7 separate regions of the Homo sapiens genome follow, and all the other regions are reported to be linked to region 3. Evidence: microRNA targets listed by miRTarBase, many of them from high-throughput screens and not tested one by one. Region 3 holds a microRNA gene; each other region holds the end of a gene's coding sequence.
What was found. The annotated mature microRNA hsa-miR-331-3p reads GCCCCUGGGCCUAUCCUAGAA and lies in region 3 at 1,064-1,084, shown strand. An mRNA with a match to its seed (bases 2 to 7 or 8) in the 3' UTR can be bound and repressed. Matches are read on the target gene's strand: a 7mer-m8 pairs with bases 2 to 8, a 7mer-A1 pairs with bases 2 to 7 and ends in A, and an 8mer does both.

Region 1: the mRNA of ANKRD13D is a reported target of hsa-miR-331-3p. Seed matches in the 3' UTR shown: 7mer-A1 at 410-416.
Region 2: the mRNA of TOM1 is a reported target of hsa-miR-331-3p. Seed matches in the 3' UTR shown: 7mer-A1 at 2,103-2,109.
Region 4: the mRNA of EXOC6B is a reported target of hsa-miR-331-3p. Seed matches in the 3' UTR shown: 7mer-A1 at 487-493.
Region 5: the mRNA of FBXL5 is a reported target of hsa-miR-331-3p. The part of its 3' UTR that is shown has no 7-base or 8-base seed match.
Region 6: miRTarBase lists ZNF629 as a target of hsa-miR-331-3p. Seed matches in the 3' UTR shown: 7mer-m8 at 447-453.
Region 7: the mRNA of TNPO2 is a reported target of hsa-miR-331-3p. The part of its 3' UTR that is shown has no 7-base or 8-base seed match.

What each region holds. Positions count from the first base shown.
Region 1 is chr11:67,302,036-67,305,115 of GRCh38, forward strand. ANKRD13D (ankyrin repeat domain 13D) reads left to right here. Exons shown (of 15, transcript NM_207354.3): 15 at 84-449. The coding sequence ends at 297. It overlaps SSH3 (slingshot protein phosphatase 3), which reads left to right and starts at 1,495. Exons shown (of 14, transcript NM_017857.4): 1 at 1,495-1,656; 2 at 2,083-2,120; 3 at 2,738-2,972. The coding sequence starts at 1,591. RefSeq lists enhancers at 645-1,162, 1,163-1,682.
Region 2 is chr22:35,346,844-35,349,923 of GRCh38, reverse strand. It overlaps TOM1 (target of myb1 membrane trafficking protein), which reads right to left. Exons shown (of 15, transcript NM_005488.3): 14 at 2,955-2,994; 15 at 1,951-2,869. The coding sequence ends at 2,715. Among named protein-coding and RNA genes, the nearest start is that of MIR6069, 12 kb to the right of the region's middle. RefSeq lists enhancers at 1-74, 75-607.
Region 3 is chr12:95,307,417-95,310,496 of GRCh38, forward strand. It overlaps MIR331 (microRNA 331), which reads left to right and starts at 1,004; the gene lies at 1,004-1,097. It overlaps MIR3685 (microRNA 3685), which reads left to right and starts at 2,507; the gene lies at 2,507-2,568.
Region 4 is chr2:72,176,531-72,179,610 of GRCh38, reverse strand. It overlaps EXOC6B (exocyst complex component 6B), which reads left to right. Exons shown (of 22, transcript NM_015189.3): 22 at 150-3,080. The coding sequence ends at 276. Among named protein-coding and RNA genes, the nearest start is that of CYP26B1, 30 kb to the right of the region's middle.
Region 5 is chr4:15,603,017-15,606,096 of GRCh38, reverse strand. It overlaps FBXL5 (F-box and leucine rich repeat protein 5), which reads left to right. Exons shown (of 11, transcript NM_012161.4): 11 at 298-1,716. The coding sequence ends at 374. Among named protein-coding and RNA genes, the nearest start is that of FBXL5, 51 kb to the left of the region's middle.
Region 6 is chr16:30,779,070-30,782,149 of GRCh38, reverse strand. It overlaps ZNF629 (zinc finger protein 629), which reads left to right. Exons shown (of 3, transcript NM_001080417.3): 3 at 1-3,080. The coding sequence ends at 432. Among named protein-coding and RNA genes, the nearest start is that of ZNF629, 6.6 kb to the left of the region's middle.
Region 7 is chr19:12,698,906-12,701,985 of GRCh38, reverse strand. TNPO2 (transportin 2) reads left to right here. Exons shown (of 26, transcript NM_001382241.1): 23 at 135-234; 24 at 314-388; 25 at 533-660; 26 at 743-2,785. The coding sequence ends at 640. Among named protein-coding and RNA genes, the nearest start is that of SNORD135, 3.2 kb to the left of the region's middle. RefSeq lists enhancers at 1-371, 1-848.

The DNA of each region.
Region 1 (3,080 bases), not on the chromosome of region 3:
AAAGCCGGTCCCCAGCCCCTCGGCTTCTGCCCCAGCCTTGGCGCTCACTGGCCTGTTCTTCCCTCCCCTGCCCTGCCTGGAAGGGCCCTCCAGGAAAGCCTGCAGCTGTCCACAGAGCCCAGGGGCCCAGGATCCCCTCCCAGGACACCCCCAGCCCCCGGTCCACCCAGCTTTGAAGAGCAGCTGCGCCTGGCCCTGGAGTTGTCTTCACGGGAGCAGGAGGAGCGGGAGCGGCGCGGGCAGCAGGAGGAGGAGGACTTACAGCGGATCCTGCAGCTGTCACTCACTGAGCACTGAGCCATAGCCCCGGGAGGGCTGGCCAGGCCACTCCCTGCCCGCTTTTGTAATTTATTTATTTATAAACTCTCTGCTGCTGAGCTTGGGGCCTGGAGCCCCAGGAATGAGCAGGCAGGGGAGACTGAGATGGAAATAAAGAGACTGTCGCAGCAGGGCTGCTCTGCTCACTGGGCTGGAGCGGTGGGGACCCTGAAGGTGGGGCGCTGTGGAGAGGCACTGTGGATGGCGGCCTCAGACCTGGGCTTGAATCCTGGTCATGGTCCCCTTAGCCTATCTGAGCCTCAGTTTCTTCAGTTGTAAAATGAGGAGACCACCCCCCACCCTCCGCCCCTCAGGGCTGAAAGGAGCTGGCGAGAGTCACGTGTCCTTACCAAGCAGGCGTCCTGTGAAAGTCAGATCCCCTGTGCCCTGTCCCACCTGCTGGGGACCCGGTTCGTCCTGCCACCCAGCCTAGTCTTCTGGAAACCGGCCCACGTGCCTGCTGGGGAGGAAAAGCCTGGGTCCCCAGGCACCATTCACCTCCAGCTGGGAAGAGCCCCGACGCCGACCCCTGCAGCCAAGCCCAGGCCCTGGCCCTGACTGCGGCTTGTTCTCTGCGGGTGGGTTTGCGCAAGTCACTTCCGCCTGCGTAGCTGGAAGCCCTGCCCTGCTCGCCTCCGAGGTGGACCTGAGAGCCCCTCATGGGCTTCCTGGGTTATTTGTAAACCCCAGGCCGTTTTCCCCGGAAGCCTGTCTTCCAGTGGTTCCTGCGGAGTGGGAACGAGAAGGCCGACCAGCAGGGAGAAATGTTTGGGGTGGGGGCCCTTGGCCGAGGGCGCGCCGTGCCTGATCCTCTCTAGACCTGTCCCCCACCTCCCCACCTCAGCTCTGCCTCCCTAGGACCCGCCTCTGCAGGGCACAGGACGCTGGAGGCCCAGAACAGCTCAGGTGCTCCCGCTGGGCCGGCCCGGGCCGGGCGCTTCCTGGGAGGGGGACCAAACTCCCGGCCTTCAGCTCTTGCCCTCCGGGTCTCCGGGCTCCGCACCTGCGCCCGCCCCCGGCCTCGCCCCTGACCTGTGCCCAGGGGCTGGGCGGGCCGAACAGCGGAGACCGGAGGGGCGGGGCCCGGCCGCCCTGAGAAGCTCCGCGGGCCCGGCTGGGCGAGTGTCTGGCCCTTTAAGGGCCGCCCCCGAGGAGGTGCCAGGCCCGGGTGGCGCCGTCCGTCCTTCCTGGTCCTGCGGGTCCAGGACTGTCCGCGGGGTTGAGGGAAGGGGCCGTGCCCGGTGCCAGCCCAGGTGCTCGCGGCCTGGCTCCATGGCCCTGGTCACAGTGAGCCGTTCGCCCCCGGGCAGCGGCGCCTCCACGCCCGTGGGGCCCTGGGTGAGTGTGGTCCGGCCGTGGTGCCGCCCACGCAGTTGCTGCCCCGGCTTGGGAGCGCGTCCTGCCCGCCAGCGGGCTCCTCTCGAACGGGGACATGAGGAGGGGGCCCCGGGGCTCGGGCTGGAGGGCGCTGGGGGCCTCGAGGGTCTCTGGTACTGGCGCCGGGGCACAATCCAGAGCCCTGCGCGCCGCCCGGGCTGCGGAGGCCCCGATCTGAGCGCGCCCCCCGCCACACTCGGCGCCCACCCAGCCGACCTGGCCTTGGGCCGGGGCTCCACGGGGCCTCCCGGTGGGGCGTGGACTGGGGTGGGAAGACGATTGGCATCTGGCGCCTTTTCTGGCCTCCCCCAACTCTAGAATTCCTGAGAGAGGGGAGGGGACAGCCCTCCCCGCCCTCACCCTGCCCTGGGGCTGCTCTCTCCGCAGGACCAGGCGGTCCAGCGAAGGAGTCGACTCCAGCGAAGGTGAGCGCCACCTCCCCCACGCAGACACTTCCGTCTGCCCCGGGCCTGGCCACGGCCGTCCTGGGCTCCAGCTGCAGGGACAGAAAGCTCCCCGGAGGACGCGCAGCGAAGCCCACTGCCAAATTTGTGGGGCAGCGTTCCCGGTGGGGCCGGCTGGTGGGCTCGCGGTAGGGCGGCCTTTGCCTTCACCCTCCCCCTGGTCAGCTGGGGCTTCCTCATCCACTGCCCTGGGCTTTGGCTCAGGTGGTGGCCACGGGCCGAACGGCAGGAGGGCATGATGGGCCTGAGGACTCCTGGGTCCCCGACCATGTTCCCAGCAGCACTTGAGTTAAACAGGTGGGAGGGGAAAAGGAGCAGCCCCCTCTCCCCACAGATGAGCTAGAGTAGAGGGGCTGAGAGCTTGGAAGCCCCCAAGACTGGTTCTCAGCAATATTGCCAAGGGGCCGAGGGGTTAGAAATGCAGATGCTCAGGCCTCCACTCTAGACCTATCGACCGCGTGGGGGCCCATGAATCCGTGTAGACAAGGGCTGCAGGTGAATGTGATGCATGCTAGACTTTGAGAGCCCCTACCCTAAGGGGAATGAGGAGCCATGACAGTTGCCCACTGCCCTGCCAGGCAGAGCTTTGCGGTGCTCCGTGGGGCTGTCCTGGGACTGCAGGATGGAGGGGACAATGATGATGCAGCAGAGGCCAGTTCTGAGCCAACAGAGAAGGCCCCGAGTGAGGAGGAGCTCCACGGGGACCAGACAGACTTCGGGCAAGGATCCCAGAGTCCCCAGAAGCAGGAGGAGCAGAGGCAGCACCTGCACCTCATGGTACAGCTGCTGAGGCCGCAGGATGACATCCGCCTGGTGAGGGCCCATGTGGAGCTCCGGGGGGTGGGGGGAAGAGACACGCCTGAGGGCAGAATGGAGCCCTGTGTATGTGTCTGCTTGGGGAGCAATGGTGTGAGGGCAGGG
Region 2 (3,080 bases), not on the chromosome of region 3:
CTCAGACAGAGCCTGCTGCCAGGGAACCCAGCCTGACTGCACTGATGAATTCCCGCCAGCGCCCCCCCCCCCAGCCCCCATGCAGCCCCAGCAGCCTTCTCTCTGAAGGAGGCCTTCAGGCAGCCTGGAACTGTTCCAGCCAGCCAAGCCGAGACCTCTGCAGGGGCCACCTCCTGCCTGGCATTCAAGGCCCTTCATGGCCCAGCCCACCCCATCTTACCTCAGCAGCCTTAGGCCGTCCTCACAGAGAGCCTCCTGGCCCTGGGCGTCCCGTCCCATCTTCTTCTTTTCACAGCGTGAAACAATGATTGAGTTTATGTCTGTCTTTCTCGTCCCTTTCCCTCCCACGTGACCCCACAGGGCTGGCACCTGGCCGCTTCACTTCTGTCTGGCGGGCACCTAGCGCTATGCTGTGTGCAGCTGGCTCCCAGGGGATGCACCCACAGGGAGGAATGAACAACCTGGCAGTTTTCACCCTTAGCACCTGAGGCCCTCCCAGCCCTGGGGGCCTTCTGTGGAAGTTTCCTTGGGTTTCCCAGCTAACACAGGGGAGAGGAGGCCTTGGCTTTGATCCTTGTAAAATCACAACTCCCCTCTAAGAGGTCCCCAGTTAAGTAGGGAGAGAATGAGGGAAGCAGGCAGTGGGGTGTGGGTGGGGCAGGCAGGTGAGGCAGCAGTGAGGAAGGTTGGGGGTCCCAGTCTTCCATTACTTAGTGTATGACCAGGCAAGTCCCTTCCTCCCTCAGCCTCAGTTTCCCCATTTGTAACTGGTGGCCAACACCATTGACCCCCTGGGGCTGTTGTGAGGTACTGAAAGGGCTGGGCCAGGGTAGGGCACCTGGCAGGAGCTCACAGATGCCCTGGATGTGGCAGAGGGAGCTTGGCCTGGACCATGAGCATCCTGATGGCGGCAGGGCCTCCCCCTCCCCTGCCTGGCACCAGTGTGCCTGCCCCCAGCTGCTTTCCTTGCCCCAACTCCATCTTGAGGGCTGGGCTGGGCCTGGTCTCCTGTATGCCCAGCTCCAGACCATACCTCAGATGGCAGGTGCTGCCTGCCCACTGCCCATGGGAATCAGTGGCTGCTCACACAGACCTCGGCCCTCTCCCAGGAGCCCAGGACCCTGTGGACCCAATTGCTTTGGCCTCACACCGTTCCCCGACCGTGTCCTGGGCCAGGAGGCTCCAACATGCCTCAGCAGTGACTCCCAGGGAGTCTGGCCTAGAGATCCCACACCTGAAAAGGTGGCACCCTAAGACCTGGGGCTCTTGAGCTGCCATGGAGGGAAGAGCTGACCCCCTGCACCTGACCTGGGGCCCAGCGTCTGGAACTGTGTGCCATGTCTTCCCAACTTAGCTTTGGTGCCTGGAAAATGGGGAGGATGCGCTTCTGCATGAGGAAATGCTGGCACATGACAACTGCATGAGCTTCCTCCTCTGAGCTGGGCGGCTCATGGAGTCCTAGTCTCCGCATCTATACATCGAGGACGCTCACTTTGCTTCTCCCAGGCTGTTGTGATGCTACGAGCCAGTGCGTAGCCCCAGGCTGTGCCTGGCACCCAGCCTCGGAAGGCCAGCATCCTCCTGTGGCCTGTGCACCCCACATGCGCACACAGTCCACACAGGTCCCCGCCCTTGTGATTAGTGTGCTCTGTGCAGGGCAGGAGCTGGCCTCATGGAACAGCAGCACGAAGGTGCCTTGAGGAGGGAGGGGTGTCAGCTGGGGAGGGCATGCATCCTCCGGGCAGGGGCGGTGGCTGGAGCCTGCCATGTGAGGTGGGAGGAGGCGGCACCTGCGTAGTGTAGCTGGGTGTTTGCTCCTGTCCTTCCGCCTGCACCATCTACAGATGCTCACCTCTCGGATGGCCCCCAGCCCTGCCCAAAGTAGTCGCTGCCTCTGTGAGGCCAAGAAGTCATTTCTGACCAGGAGACTTGACAATGCTGCTAGCAGGGTGGTTTTCTACCTTTAATTGGGGATACAAAAGGCACCTCTCCCAGTACAAGAGGATCAACCAAGAGGTGAGCCCCAGTGCTGTGGTGCCCGGCCAGAAGGAACAGAGGAAGGATGGAGGGCAAGGCAGCGGAGGGGCAGTGGGGCCCCAGCATCCCCTGAAGCCTCACCTGCAGCCTGGGGCTGATGAGATCTCGCCCACTGCGCGCAGAGTTGCAGCTTCGTACCTGGGCCGCCGCAGCTCCTCAGGGGGCCTCCACACCTCCACACCCTACCCTCAGTGGCCAGCCAAAGCCATGGGGCCCCATGCAGCAGAGCAGGGAAGGGACAAGAGGCTCGGCAGAATTTCCACTGTGGCCAGCCTCCAGCCAGGCCTCGACTGGCAGTGTGGGCTCTGAAGGGCTCCTTGGGGCATGGGCCCGGAGCAGGGTATCACTCAGTGAAGGAGAGTCACACTGGGTCAAGCAGCCAGCCAGCCAGCCAGCCTGTCCTGGGGCCTCCACTTCTCAGCAAAGTCTCATGGTCAGCTGGGGTGGGAAAGGAGGCAGAGCAGCCAGATCCCACTGCAGCGCAGACCTGTCCCCCAGTTCATCCCACTGCCTCCACACCCCCAGCCACAGCTGGGGCAGCTCCGTCTTCAAAGAGGAGGAAAAGGGGGTAACAAGCCACCCCCAAAGCAGCCTTAACACCAGAGGAGGGAGGGAGGTCCCAGCCTAAGGGTGTGAGAGCAGTGGGGACCTGGGCTGCAGGGTGCCAGACCCCACACTCATAAGGCAAACAGCATGTCATCATCTTTCTCCTGGGTCTTCTTCCGGGGCGCTGGGCCAGATGGGGGACCCGGGGGCCCCTCAGCTGAGGGGCTGGAGAGGTTGGGCAATCGGTCCGCGGCTTTGGCCCGTTCTTCCAGGAATTTGTCAAATTCTAGAGGAAGGGGAGAGGGTGAGGGTAGGCCCTGAGGCCAGAGCCCTGGGGAAAGGAGAGGGCGGGCAGGGGCGGGGACTACTACCTTCGCTGGTGACCCCCTTAGGCTCTTCCGCATCATTACCCTGGGAAGGTAGAAGGAAAGGAGGCAGAGGTTAGCCGGGCCCCCAGTACGGTCAGCCTGGGGCAGTGGTGCTGCAGCTCGGGCCCC
Region 3 (3,080 bases):
TGGGCTGGGCGTGGTGGTTCACACCTGTAATCCCAGCAGTTTGGGAGGCCCAGGTGGGCGGATCACCTGAGGTCGGGAGTTCAAGAACCGCCTGACCAACATGGAGAAACCCCGTCTCTACTAAAAATACAAAATTAGCCGGATATGGTGGTTCATGCCTGTAATCCCAGCTACTCAGGAGGCTGAGGCAGGAGAATCGCTTGAACCTGGGAGTCGGAGGTTTTGGTGAGCCGAGATTGTGCCAATGCACTCCAGCCTGGGCAACAAGAGTGAAACTCTGTCTCAAAAAAAAAAAAAAAAAAAAAAAGAAGGAAAATGAAATGTGTGATAAATTAAAGTGCATATAGTATTTTTTATGGTATATATTTTAATGTATTTTAGCTTGTCAGCAATGAAATTAGTTTTATCTCTATGTATTGAACTTCATTTAGCAACATATTATTGCAATAGTACAGTATTTAAGCTGCATATTCTCTTGACTGCATTATCCTTTAAAATCAGTATATTCTGTGAGATATGGCTATGGATATATATATTTCCTCTCCTATTTATATCCTAAGATTTTCTTAAAGGATAATTTTACTGTTTTAGGCTTTATGTTTTTCAGTTTTATATCATTTCCTAAAGCTTAGCTACCTACAAATGAATATTATTGAAGAATTTTTCTAAAACTAAAGCATGTCTTTTATAAGTTTACTCTTTTATAATATCCTAAACAAAGCATATCCTTTTCCCCTTCCTTAAGTAAATTCTTAAGGAAATTAACTTCATTTCTAAATCAAAGTATTTTCTGCACTTTTATTGCACCAATCTGTTACCTTCTGTTCATACCATGACTTAAATAATGCTTACTCAGGCACAGTACTATCAGCTGACAACGTACAGAAGGCTCCAGAAATGTCACTCCCATCCCTTAAAGGTTGGTATATGGTCCTGGTACAGTCGTGGAGGTCCATATGGGTGAAAAGCCCAGAAGTCTACCTGAGCTGAAAGCACTCCCAAGGAGTTTGGTTTTGTTTGGGTTTGTTCTAGGTATGGTCCCAGGGATCCCAGATCAAACCAGGCCCCTGGGCCTATCCTAGAACCAACCTAAGCTCGCGCATCATTCCTGGAACATCAAGAGTGTGAAGACTGAAGATAACCTGAGGCCTACCAGACATCCTATATTCACCAAGATTCACATTTTTTGGTATGTGTGCCTACATTTTAGCAAAAATTGGTTGGTTAATCCTTCTAAAATTAGAGGGATGACATTGGGTAACAAAGTCTTCCCAGCCTTTGGCATTATAGTAATTTCTCGCAATAGAAATTCCATACAGATATTATTGCCAGTGAAGAGAGCTATTCTTGTTTATTATCAGTTCTATATTTTTAGCTGAAGCAACTTAGCCCTAAAAAACCCCAAAATCAACTTCTTCCTCCAAATTAAACTCTCCCCCAAATTTAATGGTTTCTGTTTTCTTAAATGTTTTTCTACTTGACACTGTTATGTCAGTCTCATGTAACTGAATAATTGTTCATAATTTCTGAAGAGCATTTAGTCTTTGCCATCTGGCTTCAGTGCCAAATGATTTTCAATTCTTGTTTTTGGAGACTAATGACTTTTTCCTTAATTTATTATCAAATTTGCCACATTTTAGAGCTCACTTTTAGAAGTTCTGCTATGGTTAATGAAAACAAGCTAGAATGACACAGTAGAAATTGGTTAATACGTCACATTTTACATCACTATTTTGTAGAAGATTTTTAGTAAGTTTCTCTATTTTTATTCCTTGCCACTCTGGATTTTACAAATATTCTGACCTAGTTGATCCATCACATGGTCTCATATCACAACTGTTGCATCGCTATATTCACATAGATGTTTTTCTGTTTAATTTAGAAGACAGTATTTCTGAAAAAGTATGAAACGACCCCAAATCCAAAAGTTATGGTGCACAATGAAAATGTATGCTTTTAATAATGCTGGCTTCTGCAGTAGGTGTAGACCATGTTTCAAATAACCACAGACTAATCAGAAACTCCACCTGTGAAAGGAACTTGAAATTGTGCTATTCCTCCAAGCTTATAACACCAGCAAATTGGGTCAATAGGTTATTCCTTTAAAATAGGACTATGAGCCTACAGAGGCTCACTCTGAAGAACTCAGCCGTGGAGTTAGTTCTGTACTATATCCATCACAACAGACATGCTTCATCCCATAGACTTCTTGACATAGCTTGAAATGAGTGAACCCATCCTTGATTTATATACATATATGTTCTCAGTATTTTGGGAGCCTTTCCACTTTTTTAAACCTTGTTCATTATGAACACTGAAAATAGGAATTTGTGAAGAGTTAAAAAGTTATAGCTTGTTTACGTAGTAAGTTTTTGAAGTCTACATTCAATCCAGACACTTAGTTGAGTGTTAAACTGTGATTTTTAAAAAATATCATTTGAGAATATTCTTTCAGAGGTATTTTCATTTTTACTTTTTGATTAATTGTGTTTTATATATTAGGGTAGTACATTTCCTACCCTACCTGAAGACTTGAGATTATAGTCTTTGGGGGGATGGGCAAAGTACTCTCTTTTTTTGCATCTTTTAAATTGTGATTTTTAAAAACACATATAAATTTTACTATCTTAACCATTTTTATGTGTATAGTTCAATGAGATTAAGTCCAGTCACATTGGTGTGAAACAGATCTTCAGAATTTTTTCATCTTGCAAATCTGGGACTCTATACCCATTAAACAACTCCCATTTTCCCCTTCCCCACAGCCTTGGCAACCATCATTCTACTTTTCTCTATGAATTTCACTACTTTAGATACCTCATATAAATGGAATCATACAGGATTTGTCCTTTTGTAGCTGACATATTTCACTTAACATAATGTCCTCAAGGTTCATCCATATTGTAGAATGTGATAGGATTTCCTGCCATTTTAAGGCTGAATAATATTCCACTGCATGTATTTACCACATTTTTTTATCCATTCATCTGTTGGTGGACGTTTGGGTTGCCTCCATCTCTTGGCTATTGTGAATAATGCTGCTGTAAACATGAGTGTGCAAATATCTATAATTTTTTAAC
Region 4 (3,080 bases), not on the chromosome of region 3:
TGAGTGTGGGCCTGACAGTGGAGATATTCTGGACTCTCTCATTACTCTGGGTAGTGGTTAAGATGCATTGCCATCCTGCTTCCTGCAGGTTCTCCTTCCACCATTGTTTCCTCAAACATGTTGCCCTCTTTCTTTCCTTCTCTGTTTAGGATGAAGGATACTAGCCGCAAGAACAACATGTTTGCACAGTTTCGGAAAAATGAGCGAGACAAGCAGAAACTCATTGACACCGTGGCCAAGCAGCTCCGAGGACTCATCAGCAGCCACCACTCATGAAGGGTGACCCCGGACCCACAGAGGCGACCTGCTGCAGCCTCTGTGTCAGTCTGGGGTCCAGCCCCAGCTGACCCTGCATTTGTGCATTCTTCTTCAAAGAGAGCATATGTATTTTTTTATTAACCCCTGTGCAGTATTCACATAACATTTCCCTATAGTAAAAGAGGCACAAGAATAAGCAAGTACATGAGATGTTGCTAGGCTGGGACTCAGGGGAAGTTATTACTACACTATCTGTGTTATCTTAGAGATGGTGGTATCATCAATTCCACAGTGATGAACCACCTTTCATCCATGGCTCTAAAGCTTAGGTCTGGGGCTTAGGAACCATAAAAAGTGGGTATCTGGCGCTGGGAGGTAGAGTGAGTAAGCAAAAGGATACTAAAATATGTCCTGTTCACTCTTGGATGCCCATTCACCACATAGATGAGGCTGATTCTTCTCAATACAAGGAAAGGGCATGGCAAACATTACTATTTAGTACACTAAGGGCAGCTCTGGAGGGTCATCTCCTCAGTCTGCTGACTTTCACTGGCTTGTGAACAAGCATGGCATATGGCAAGATGACAGCTTCATTCCAATCCCCCAAGAATGGCGGTTTCTTTAGCCTGATCTAACCCCAGGCTTTTATTGCAATTTTTTCTAGGGCAGGATACAGCTAAGTAGACAGCAGTAATAATTGGATCCCATGTTTAACTGCATATTGCCCCAGCTCTAGGAGTGTTGAGTCTCAACTCGAAGAGTTTTTCTGGATCTTGAAAGCCAGTTTTCATGGAATCAGAGACCCAATCCCTTCCCTGTTCATCTCATTTCCTTCACTTACAGTCAGAGCACTTGGTTCAGGACATAAATCAACAGTTACTTCCATAGGCCTTCACAGGGCGTTTCAGACTTAGCCTCCTCCAGTAATGCCATTGAAATAGTTCAGATTTCGGAAGCCTAAAAATGGCCTTTACCTTACCCTTAGGTGTAACCTGAGGATTAGTTGGGATTGTTCCTTTATGTTTTAAAACCAGCTTTTTGGTTATCATCTTTAAGGAAATGTCACCAGCTCTGCACTGTGGGGGCAGCCATGCCTGGACTGGATGCCTCTAGGGATGGAGACATTGTTACCATAAAGTCGACAGAGCCAACCATGGCTTGTGGCTTGTTGCCTCTGGCCCAACTGTCCTTCACTAAATAATATCCTAGATATTATTTTGTTGCTCAAGCCCAAGGTTCCCACCCTCTTTTGAGATCCCCAAAGCCATCTTTGGCCTTGTCTAAGAAAGATTGCCTATAATCCTGTCCTCCAAACTCTAAAGCCTGGAGCAGCTTAGCGTGGAGGCTGCACTCATTGACCCAGATGGACTCCTGAGACTTAACGCAAGGGCTTTGCTATGAGGTCAGTCGGGGGAAACTGTACTTTAAGACACTTCAGAAAGATGCTACTGGCTAGTAGCAGAAAGATGGCTAGTGGCAAGAGTATAATTGTGCATCACCAAACAATGACAAATAAGCCACACAGGCATTTCCAGCTTGGATTGATGGGAGGAGAGACTCATCAAACAGAATTCTTCACTACCTTTGTCAGCTACTGAGTTGCTTCTGGGGAGGGAAGTACTTCCTTGCCCCTCCCCAACCCCCCTACCTCACCATATCCTATCATATCTTGATAGTCATGGGGAAGAGGATGTGCACACAGACATACAAATTTCCTCAAAGCTGGAGAGACCAGGCTACATGTGAGCTCATAGATGCTGCTGAGGCTCATCCTGAGGGCTGGATGGTTGGCCAGGGTTTCAGAATGAGGGTAAGGGATGAGCACTGCCACCCAGAACTTGATAAGCCAAGAGAAGGCAGGAGCCAAAATGGCATCGCCAAGCTCTCATCTTTGTTGAAACAAGTGAGAAACGATTATATTAATCTGAAGTTCTATTGCTTGAGAAGAGTTCAAAACACTTCTCTTTGCTAGTACCCAGTTTGCAGCAAGATCTCTTCAGCTTTAAGTGCTGAGAGACTTTGAAGTGGAAATGGAGAGATGTGTAAGCATGGCACAGTGTTTGTCTTTTTAGAGGATCATCATTGCTGGTCTGGTCTCAAACCTCTGCCTTGGAAGAACTGTGCTATACAGGAAAAAGTGAACAAGGTGGAGGAATAGGGGTTATTCTGCACAGAAGTCCCATGAAAGGAAAAGCTTATTCAAGCTCAAGACATAAAGATGGACCCTTTGATATATCTTCTCTCCATTCTTAGTCTGCCTTCACCTTATCTAACAAAAAACAACATGCAGCTACTGAGTTGTATGTAGAGACATACTCTTGGTGGGCCAGGGAAGGTAAAAACAGGGACCAGCAATGTCAAGTTTTTGAACTAGAAAAGTGGGATGTTTTTAGTTTTGTCTATAACCTGTAGCTGGGCCAACCCTTGAGAGGACTTGTGCAAAGCATGTGTGCCCAGACCCATCAGACTCCTCAGATATGGCCTCAAATACCTAGAGATGTAGAAGTACCGTGGAGGGCCTCAATAAGAGGGCAAGCACACAGATGGCTAGAAGCCTGTATGGCTTCTGGTCAGGATGAACCCTTGGCCAAGTTCTTGAGGAAACCAGGTCTATATTCCTGAAGGGACAGTTCAGTTTGGGACTCTATTAGGTTTCAGTAGTAATATAGGCTGCTTGCATCATTTTAACATTCATAGGGAAAATCTCTTTGAGCAGGCTATAAATGAAGCTGTTGCAGGTAGGGAAGAACAGGACCTGAAAATGGGAACCAGGAAGTGAGATCCTGTTGGCAAAGGGAATGTAGAGCTTCCAGGGTGCATTG
Region 5 (3,080 bases), not on the chromosome of region 3:
TGCTTCTGTGGATTGTCTCATTTCCATTTTGGATTTTTATATTGTAAGTTGTTGCTAAAAATTATTTTTTTCCCTTCTTCCACTTACCTTTTGGACCATGAAGGATATATTAATTAAAGTCAAGCTGCTATTGAGTTTTGTGTCTGAATAATTTCTTATACACTTATCATGAGATTTACTTCTATCATATAAGTACTGCTAGTAAAACCAATGAATGTTTAACTCCTTCATAAGCAAAATTATTTTTATGTGATCTCTAAGAAATTCCTCCTTTCACATTTTTCTGTTTTCATACAGGTCCTCATGCTGATACCGCCAGTGGATGCCAGAATTTGCAGTGTGGTTTTCGAGCCTGCTGCCGCTCTGGCGAATGACCCTTGACTTCTGATCTTTGTCTACTTCATTTAGCTGAGCAGGCTTTCTTTCATGCACTTTACTCATAGCACATTTCTTGTGTTAACCATCCCTTTTTGAGCGTGACTTGTTTTGGCCCCATTTCTTACAACTTCAGAAATCTTAATTTACCAGTGAATTGTAATGTTGTTTCTCTTGCAAATTATACTTTTGGTTTAGAAAGGGATTAGGTCTTTTCAAAAGGGTGAGAACAGTCTTACATTTTTCTTTTAAATGAAATGCTTTAAAGAATGTTGGTAATGCCATGTCATTTAAAGTATTTCATAGATAATTTTGAGTTTTAAAGTCCATGGAGGTGATTGGTTCTCTTTACACATTAACACTGTACCAAGCTTTGCAGATCTTTTCCGACACACATGTCTGAAGACTTATTTTCAAAGACAGCACATTTTTGGAAACTAATCTCTTTTCCGTAATATTTCCTTTATTTCAATGATTCTCAGAAGGCCAATTCAAACAAACCCACATTTAAGGTTCTTTAGGATTATAGAATAAATTGGCTTCTGAGTGTTAGCTCAGTGAGCTAGGAAAGCACCAATCGATATTTGTTTCCTTTAGGGATACTTTGTTCTCACCACTGTCCCTATGTCATCAAATTTGGGAGAGATTTTTTAAAATACCACAATCATTTGAAGAAATGTATAAATAAAATCTACTTTGAGGACTTTACCAAGTAATACTGTTGTGTTGTGATTTTTATTATAAATCTCAATCCAGGTTTACTTTAGTATAGAATAGGACTACATACTTTGTCTTTGGACCTCCCATGAACTTATTACCCTGACAAATAGTTTTAGACAGATACTGAATTTTATTGAGCTGAATTTTCTTTTTGAAATGAGTTATTCAGTAGTCAAAATTTGAATCCGTAAGTATATCTACTTTGCTTTGTTAAAACATCATGAGAGTGGAGGCCTGCCACCCAGAAAGGCACATACTAGTGCCTTTTAGTACAATTTTATGTCATGTAGAAGAAAATGGCAATGTTCCTCCTATTGATACAGATACAGGCATATGTCATCTTATTGCGTTTTGCTTTATTGCACTTTGCAAATAATGCATTTTTTACAAATGGAAGGTTTATGGCAACTCTGCGTTGAGCCAGTCTATTGGTGCCATGTTTCCAATAAAACTTCTCCTTTCATGTCTCGTATATTGTGATAATTCTTGGAGTATTTCATAGTTTTTCACTATTATTAAATCTGTTGTGGTGATCTGTGGCCAGTGATTGTTGTTACTATTGTAATTGCTTTGGAATGCCATGAACTGTGCCCTAATAAGACAGAGAACTTAATTGATAAATATTATGTATGTTCTGATTGCTCCACTGACCAGTGGTTCCTGTCTCTCTCCTCCTCAGACCTCCCTCTTCCTAGAGACACAACAATATTGAAATTAGGCCCCAGCTTATAACCTTGCAGTGGACTTTAAGTGTTGAAGTGAAAGGAAGAGTCATGTCTCTCACTTTAAGTGAAAAGCTAGAAATGATTAGGCTTAGTGAGCAAGGCATGTCGAAAACTTAGGCCCAAATCTACGCTTCTTGTGCCATACAGCAAAGTTGTGAATGCAACAGGAAAGTTCTTGAAGGAAATTAAAAGTGCTACTCCAGTGAACACCCAATGATAAGAAAGTGAAACAGCTTTATTACTGATATGGAGAAAGTTTTAGTGGTCTGGATAAATGAAACTAGCCATAAAATTCCCTTAAGCCAAAGCCTAATTCAGAGTAAGACCCTAACTCTCTTCAATTACATGAAGGCTGAGAGAAGTGAGGAAGCTTCAGAAAAGGTTGAAGCTAGCAGGGGTTGATTCATGAGGTTTAAGGAAAGAAACCTTCTCTATAACATAAAAATAGAAGGTGAGGTAGCAAGTGCTAATATAGAAGCTGCAGCAAGTTATTCAGAAGATCTAGCTAAGGTCATTGATTTGAAAGTGGCTACATTAAATATCAGATTTTCAGTGTGTAGACAAAACAGCCTTCTATTGGAAGAAGATGCCATCTAAATCTTTAATAGCTAGAGAGGAGAAATCAATGCCTGGCTTAAAAGGGCAGGCGGACTCTTAATGTTAGAGATTGATGCAGCTAGTGACTATGTTGAAGAGAATGCTCATTTGCCATTCTGAAAAACCTAAGGCCCTTAAGAATTATTGCTAAGTCTACTCTGTGCTCTGTAAATGGAACAACAAAGTCAGTATGATAGTATATCTGTGTACAGCATGGTTTGCTGAATATTTTAGGCCCACTGTTGAGACCTGCTCAAAAAATTTCTTTCAAAACGTTACTGCTTATTGACAAGGCTCCTGGTCACCCAAGAGCTCTGGTGGAGATGTACAAGGAGATTAATGTTTTTATGCCTGTTAACATCTATTCTGCAGCTCCATGCAGAATTACTCCATGGATCAAGGAATAATTCTGACTTTCAAGTCTTATTAAGAAATACATTTTGTATGGCTATAGTTGCCATAGATAGTGATTCCTCTGATGGATCAGGGCAAAGTAAATTGAAAATATTCTGGAAAGGATTCAATTAGAAGGATTCACCATTCCAGGTGCCATTAAGAATATTCGTGATTCATTGGAGGAGGTCAGAATATCAGCATTAACAAGAGATTGGATGAAGTTGATTCCAACTCTCAATGGATGTCTTTGTAGGGTTCCAGACTTTA
Region 6 (3,080 bases), not on the chromosome of region 3:
TCTGAGCTGCTGCTGCACCAGAAAGTCCATGCAGGCGGGAAGAGCTCCCAGAAGAGTCCAGAGCTGGGGAAGAGCTCTTCCGTCCTCCTGGAGCATCTCAGGAGCCCCCTGGGGGCCAGACCCTACCGCTGCTCAGATTGCAGGGCCTCCTTCCTCGACCGCGTGGCCCTCACCCGGCACCAAGAAACCCACACCCAGGAAAAACCCCCCAATCCCGAGGACCCCCCTCCAGAGGCAGTCACCCTGTCCACAGATCAGGAAGGTGAGGGCGAGACCCCTACCCCCACAGAGAGCAGCAGCCATGGGGAAGGGCAAAACCCCAAAACCCTAGTGGAAGAAAAGCCCTATCTGTGCCCCGAGTGTGGAGCCGGCTTCACAGAAGTCGCAGCCCTCCTGCTCCATAGGAGCTGCCACCCAGGTGTCTCCCTGTGAAATGGGTCTGGAGACCAGGGGCCTCGCTCTCTCCAGAGAGGAACACTGGATTTTTTCCCCCAAAAAAATTACATGGGGAAGGGAGGATAACCCTATCAGATGGTAGTGGAGTGGAGGAGAAAGAACCCTGGGAAAAAATAGTGCTTTTACATCAGTGATGAGAAACCCTATAAAATTGTTGGTGGGAAGCACTTATAAGGCAGTAGAGAAAAACTGTTGGGTTAGAAACCCTATAAATATGTAGGAAAAAAAAAAGCCCTTTAAGTCTGTAGCAGAAAAACCCTATAAACCATAGTGGATAAAAGCCCTATTAATTGTAGGAAGAGGTCCCAATATGTCTCTGAACAACCCTATAAAATTGTATCAAAATCCTTAGGAAAATCCTATAGGGTCGGGGAAGTACCGCAATGGCACTGACCCGGGAGTAACGACCCTCAGATGATGCAGAAAACACCTCTCCCTCACTGTTCCACAATGTTCTCTCCCAGCAGCCCTGGACAGTTCTCATGGAGGAAGATGCTCAGCTGGGGGAGTGGTGTGGGAACTGGGTGGAACTGAAAAGGAAGAAAATAGGAGAAAAATAAGTGACCAGGAGCTCTGGAGCCCCCAGAGGAGATAAGACAGAGACTAGGAAGAAAAGGTCCCACTCACTGCACTGGGGTCCTTGGGGTTTGAGGACAATGTTAGATGCATTGTGTGTTTTAGGGAAAGAGGCCTATGGAATCCCTTATCAAAACCCCAAAATGGGGAAGAAAAAACAAATTGGCAAGCCTTTTTAAAGGCTGAAGTTTGGGGTGCAGAAACATGGTCAGTATAAGAATACTGAGAAACCACCACAAAAATTAGGGGGAAGCAGGGGGCAGTTTCTGTTAGATTGCTTTGAGGGGAGCAAACCAAGGTGGGGAAACTGCTCACATGGAACCCAGCTAACTCCAGGCCCCTTCTTGCTTCCGGAAGCTTGCGAAACTGCAAGTAGCAGGCAGGTCCCAGCTCTCAGAGTGCAAGGGTTCTCCCCACACCAGGCAGGACCACCCTTTCTCCCTGCCCAGCCAGGGACTTCTACTCTGCAAGGCCTCCAGGGATGGCGGTTGCCTCCCACCACATTCTCAGGTCTCACCTTCAGGAGGTTTTTCCTGAAATCTAACTGCCGCCAGTGGCAGCTCATTTCCTCAAATTCTGTCCTCAGTGGAGAGGGAGAACCGCTGCTAGTCGACCTCCAAAGAATAAAGCCCTTCAGAGACTTAGGGCCTGCGTGTGGGCCTCCCCAGCCTTCTCCAAGTCATCAGGGCCACAGAATTTCTTAGAAAGCTTTGATTAGCCAGCAACTTGATTTTAAACTTCAGCTATTCATCTTTGTTGGTAGCAAGGCTGCCCCGCAGGATAAGGCAGCCCTCCTCCCTGGTGGGGATCCAGACACCCCACAGACTGAGCCACAGGTCCCTGAAGAGTCCGCAGAGGCCGTATCACCCTCTTCACCCTGGTACCTGGAGCCCTCCAGGGTTGTGAGATCCAGCCCAATCTCAGCCTTGAGATGGATGGGATGGATTCCACTCACTTGGCTCCCCTCTCCTCCTTAGCCAGAAACCTTCAGAAGGAAACAGAAGGATGAGAAAGCCTCCCTTGCCAGGCCCATCTCACCTCCCACACCACACAGTTACACATTCATAAACAGCCAAGCCTGCTCACAGGCCTGGGCATATGTGGCTGGGGAGAGACTGTTGCCCTATGAGATGGTGGAAGACAGAAAACTCTTGAATGAAACATCTGTAACAAGACTCCCACTCCCTAATCCTGGAGACCCCTTCAAAAGGAGAGGACTCTGCTCAGCGCTGGGTCAGAAAGGAAGTGCTTGCCAACCCCAGTAATGCGCTGTCCTGGAGTAAGAGGACTGAGATGCCAGCTGTGGGGCCCGTCAGGAGTCACGTCTCAAGAGAGGGGTGACCCAGATTTTTGCAAAGCTGTGGAAGAGACCTCTAATTCCATGACCTAAAGTTTCACACAACCTTTATGCAAATCCTTCGCCATTTGTCTATCCTGGCCCCAGCAGGATGACCCTCACATTTAAAAGGATCAAAATCTCAAACATTGTGGGAGGAAAACGCCAGGCCTGCTGGGGAGAGGGAGAAGGCAGGCCTCAGGATTGTGCGGAGAACCATGTTGCCATCTGCATAACGCCCCAGCCTATCCAAGTGCCAGGAAGGGAAGCACTACTGAGGGGGGTGCTGCCTGTGGGTCTCTTCCTAACAGAACGCCAACGAAGGGGGTGCCCTGTAAGAATGAGAAGTCTGCCAAGTCTAAGGAGATGTCCCCCTCCCCAAGATGGTAGCAGAAACTGAAGTTGTAAAGACAAACCTCTCGCAAAGCCAGAAGCAGATGCTCTCAAAAACAGGCCTAAGGAATCTGTTCCCAGAAGAGGCCTGGGGAGCAGCTTTTGGGGCTCAGAGGCCAGTCTGGGGGGAGGCAGGCAGTGTGACTGAAGGCCGGCGCAGGCCTGTTTCGGACTAGGGTGTAGCATATTTAGTAGGATGCTCACATGTTGTAGGGATGGGTGAGGGCTAAGGGGCTTGGCTCTTGTACGGGATGGATGATGTGAGCGCACAGTTCGTAGGGTCAGGCGTCTTGCGGTAGGAAAGGGGCAGGGTTCGATA
Region 7 (3,080 bases), not on the chromosome of region 3:
CCTACTGACTCCCTGCCCTGCCCCACCCCCACAGATGCATGTCCCAGGCCCACTCACTGATCCCCAGTGACCCAGCCCTCCACAGATGCATGCCCAGCCTGCCCTCTGACCTCCAGCTGCTCACCTTCCCACAGGTGCACGTCCCTCAGGAACATCAGGGACAACGAGGAGAAGGACTCAGCCTTCCGCGGCATCTGCATGATGATCGGTGTCAACCCGGGGGGCGTTGTGCAGGTTGGGGCAGCTGGGCTCTGAGGGCAGGCGCGGGCGCTGGGCTCGGGCGGCCCCTCACCTGGGATCCGTCACGTTTCAGGACTTTATTTTCTTCTGCGATGCTGTAGCCTCCTGGGTGAGCCCGAAGGATGACCTTCGGGACATGTTTTATAAGGTGAGGCTCTGTCTGGGCCCTGATCTAGTTCCGGGAGCAGGCAGGGGTGAGACCATCTGGTAACAATGGGGCCTGGGGATGGGGGAAGAGGCGCACTCCCCTTGTTCTGCCCCTGCCTACCCCTCACCACCACCCTCCCCACAGATTCTCCACGGCTTCAAAGACCAAGTTGGGGAAGATAACTGGCAGCAGTTCTCTGAGCAATTCCCGCCGCTGCTCAAGGAGAGGCTGGCGGCTTTCTATGGGGTCTAGGTGATCATGGAGACTGCCAGGTAAGGAGACTGCAGCTGGCAAGTCAGCACTGTCTTGGGGGCCGAAAGGTCCCAGGCCATGACCTTCCTCCTCCCCCTGCAGGTTTCTGTCTGCGTCGTCGTCGGAGGGATTACTGGGGAGTGCGCTGCATCCGGAAGTCGCTGTGCCCTGGTTGAGGGGGGTTAGGGAGGAGTGAGTGGGACTCAAATCCAGATGCCTTCCCCGTCCGTCCGTCCGTCCGTCCATCCGTCCACTTGCCCTCCTGGCAGGTGGGTGGGGCCACCATGCTCATCCTACAAACGGGGAGGTGGGGGGGACTTCTGGTGGGCAAGGGCCCCTGGGCTCTAATAGGGTCATCTCTGGCAGCCCACTTGGGCCAGCTACGTGGGAGGGAGGAATTACACAGCTGACCGAATCCGGCTTCGGATGAGGTGAGGGAGGAGCAGGTCAGGAGGGGGGCCCTCGTAGGGACGCGTACACTCACACGGACACACATGGCCACACGCATGTGCGGGTGCCATAACCGGCGAGGCTGGGCCAGCCGCTCCACCATTTCCCCGACTGCATGGAGACAGTAGAATTAGTGAACCCCTGAGTTAACCCGTAAGGCCTTCCGTGTAACCTGCATCTAGAGTTTAAGAAGCTTCTGCTGTTTTGCCGGAATTGGCGGTGACTGGGGAGGGCTGGGTGGGTGGGGGGCCTCAGGCGGGATCTCGGGGCGGGGGGAGGAGGATGGTGACCTTGGGAGTCGCCCTGTCAGCACGCACATGCTTGGGACCCACTCCACACACTCCCTGCCAGCTTTGTTGCAGCCTCAGCTGGTGGTGTCTCCGTCCTTATCCTAGCCTAGCTCGCAGGGTGAGAACCACTGGAGTGGCTGGGGCTGGCCAGAGGTCACCGTTTCTCCTTCCTGTGTGCTCCAGTGGCTTTTGAAGACACTGGGTTGGGACCTTTTTCCTGAAGAGAGCTGGGTGTAGCCAGAGCTACTGGCACCTACCCCGAGCATCTCTCTCTGTAAGCAGCTTCAGGGGCAGTCCGTTTCTCTGTGCTTCTGAAACCCCCTTCTCACGTTTCAGGCCCCAGTTTTAACTCAAGGCCTGGGGCAGGGGCGTTTAATTGATGATGACAGAGGACACAGGTTTTTGCCAGCAAAAAGGAAAACCAAGGCTTGGTGGAAGGGAAAGGTGGTGTGTCCCCTGTTCCCTATTCCATCTCCCTGGGACTTCCTGCTCATCATAGTACCCAGTGAGCCCAGAGATCCTACTAGACTGGGTCAGCAATTCTAGAGAACCTTCCGGAATAGTCTGGGAACATGGTCAAGGTGGAAGGGGCTCCCCTAGAGAGGGTGGGGGTGTAGTTACTTCCCAGTTGGCCAGAAAACTGGGCCTTGCAGACCCCCTTAGCATTTTTTCCCTTTTTTTCCTTCCCTGCTTTCTACTTCTTTGGGGAGCCCCTTGTGTTTTGGAGTCTGACTGGAGTCTCGCATCCTGGGGCCTGCTCCATCCATCCCTCCTGGGCGCCAGACCCTCCATCCAAGCCCTGTGTCTTTCCATAGTCAGGGTCAGGCCCTGCATCTATTCCAAGGGGCACTCAGTACACATTCCATAAATTAGCTGGGTGTCCCTGCACGCCCACCCCATGAAACTCGAGCAGGTCTCTGGAAGCCATTTGTTAAAAAAAAAAAAAAAAGTTTTAAAAATACCTTTTAATTTTCTGGTAATTCCAGTTCTTTGAAGCATCCTCTGCTGGGTCTTGGGGTGTGTGGATGGATTGGCTGTCTGATGGGATTGGTAACCCCTCGCTACTCAAGATGGGGGGATACAAACACCTTCAGGGAAGGGGAGCCTGGTTCTTCTCGTTTTCCTTTTTTTTTTTTTTTTTAAAAAAAAACTATTTAATTTTTTAATTTATTTTTGGTTGTTTTTTGCACAATGAAGTTTCAGCTTCTCAACCTTCTCCCCTACCCAGGGCTGTGGACCCAGACTGGCCTTGAGCCACAGTCCCTCTTTCCCTCCTCACCCTCTTCCCCCTGCGGGCTCCCGGGTCTGTCCATTTGTTACTGTGCTGTGCTGGGGATTGGCGCCGAGGTGGCGTGAGATTCCACTTGTGTAGAACTTTGTTGAGTAAAGATCAGTTTCTTGTGAACTCCTTAGTCTGTGGCTTCCTGTGTCCTTGGCTTTGGTAGTGAAGAAATGTCGGGGGCACCGGGGATACTTGAGAGTGGGAAGATAGACGAATGTGAAAGATGGAAGATTAAATTTGTAACATATATGAAATGTGCAGCTCATTCTCTGGGACTTCAGCTCACTAAGGGTGAGCCATTAGTGTCACAGCCCAGGTTCAAGATGCCCCTCTGCCGTACTCTAAACTGAGTGGTAAGGGGTGAGGCCTTGCCGCACTCTTATCATCAGCTGACCCTGGGTCAAGGTTTTCATAGAAG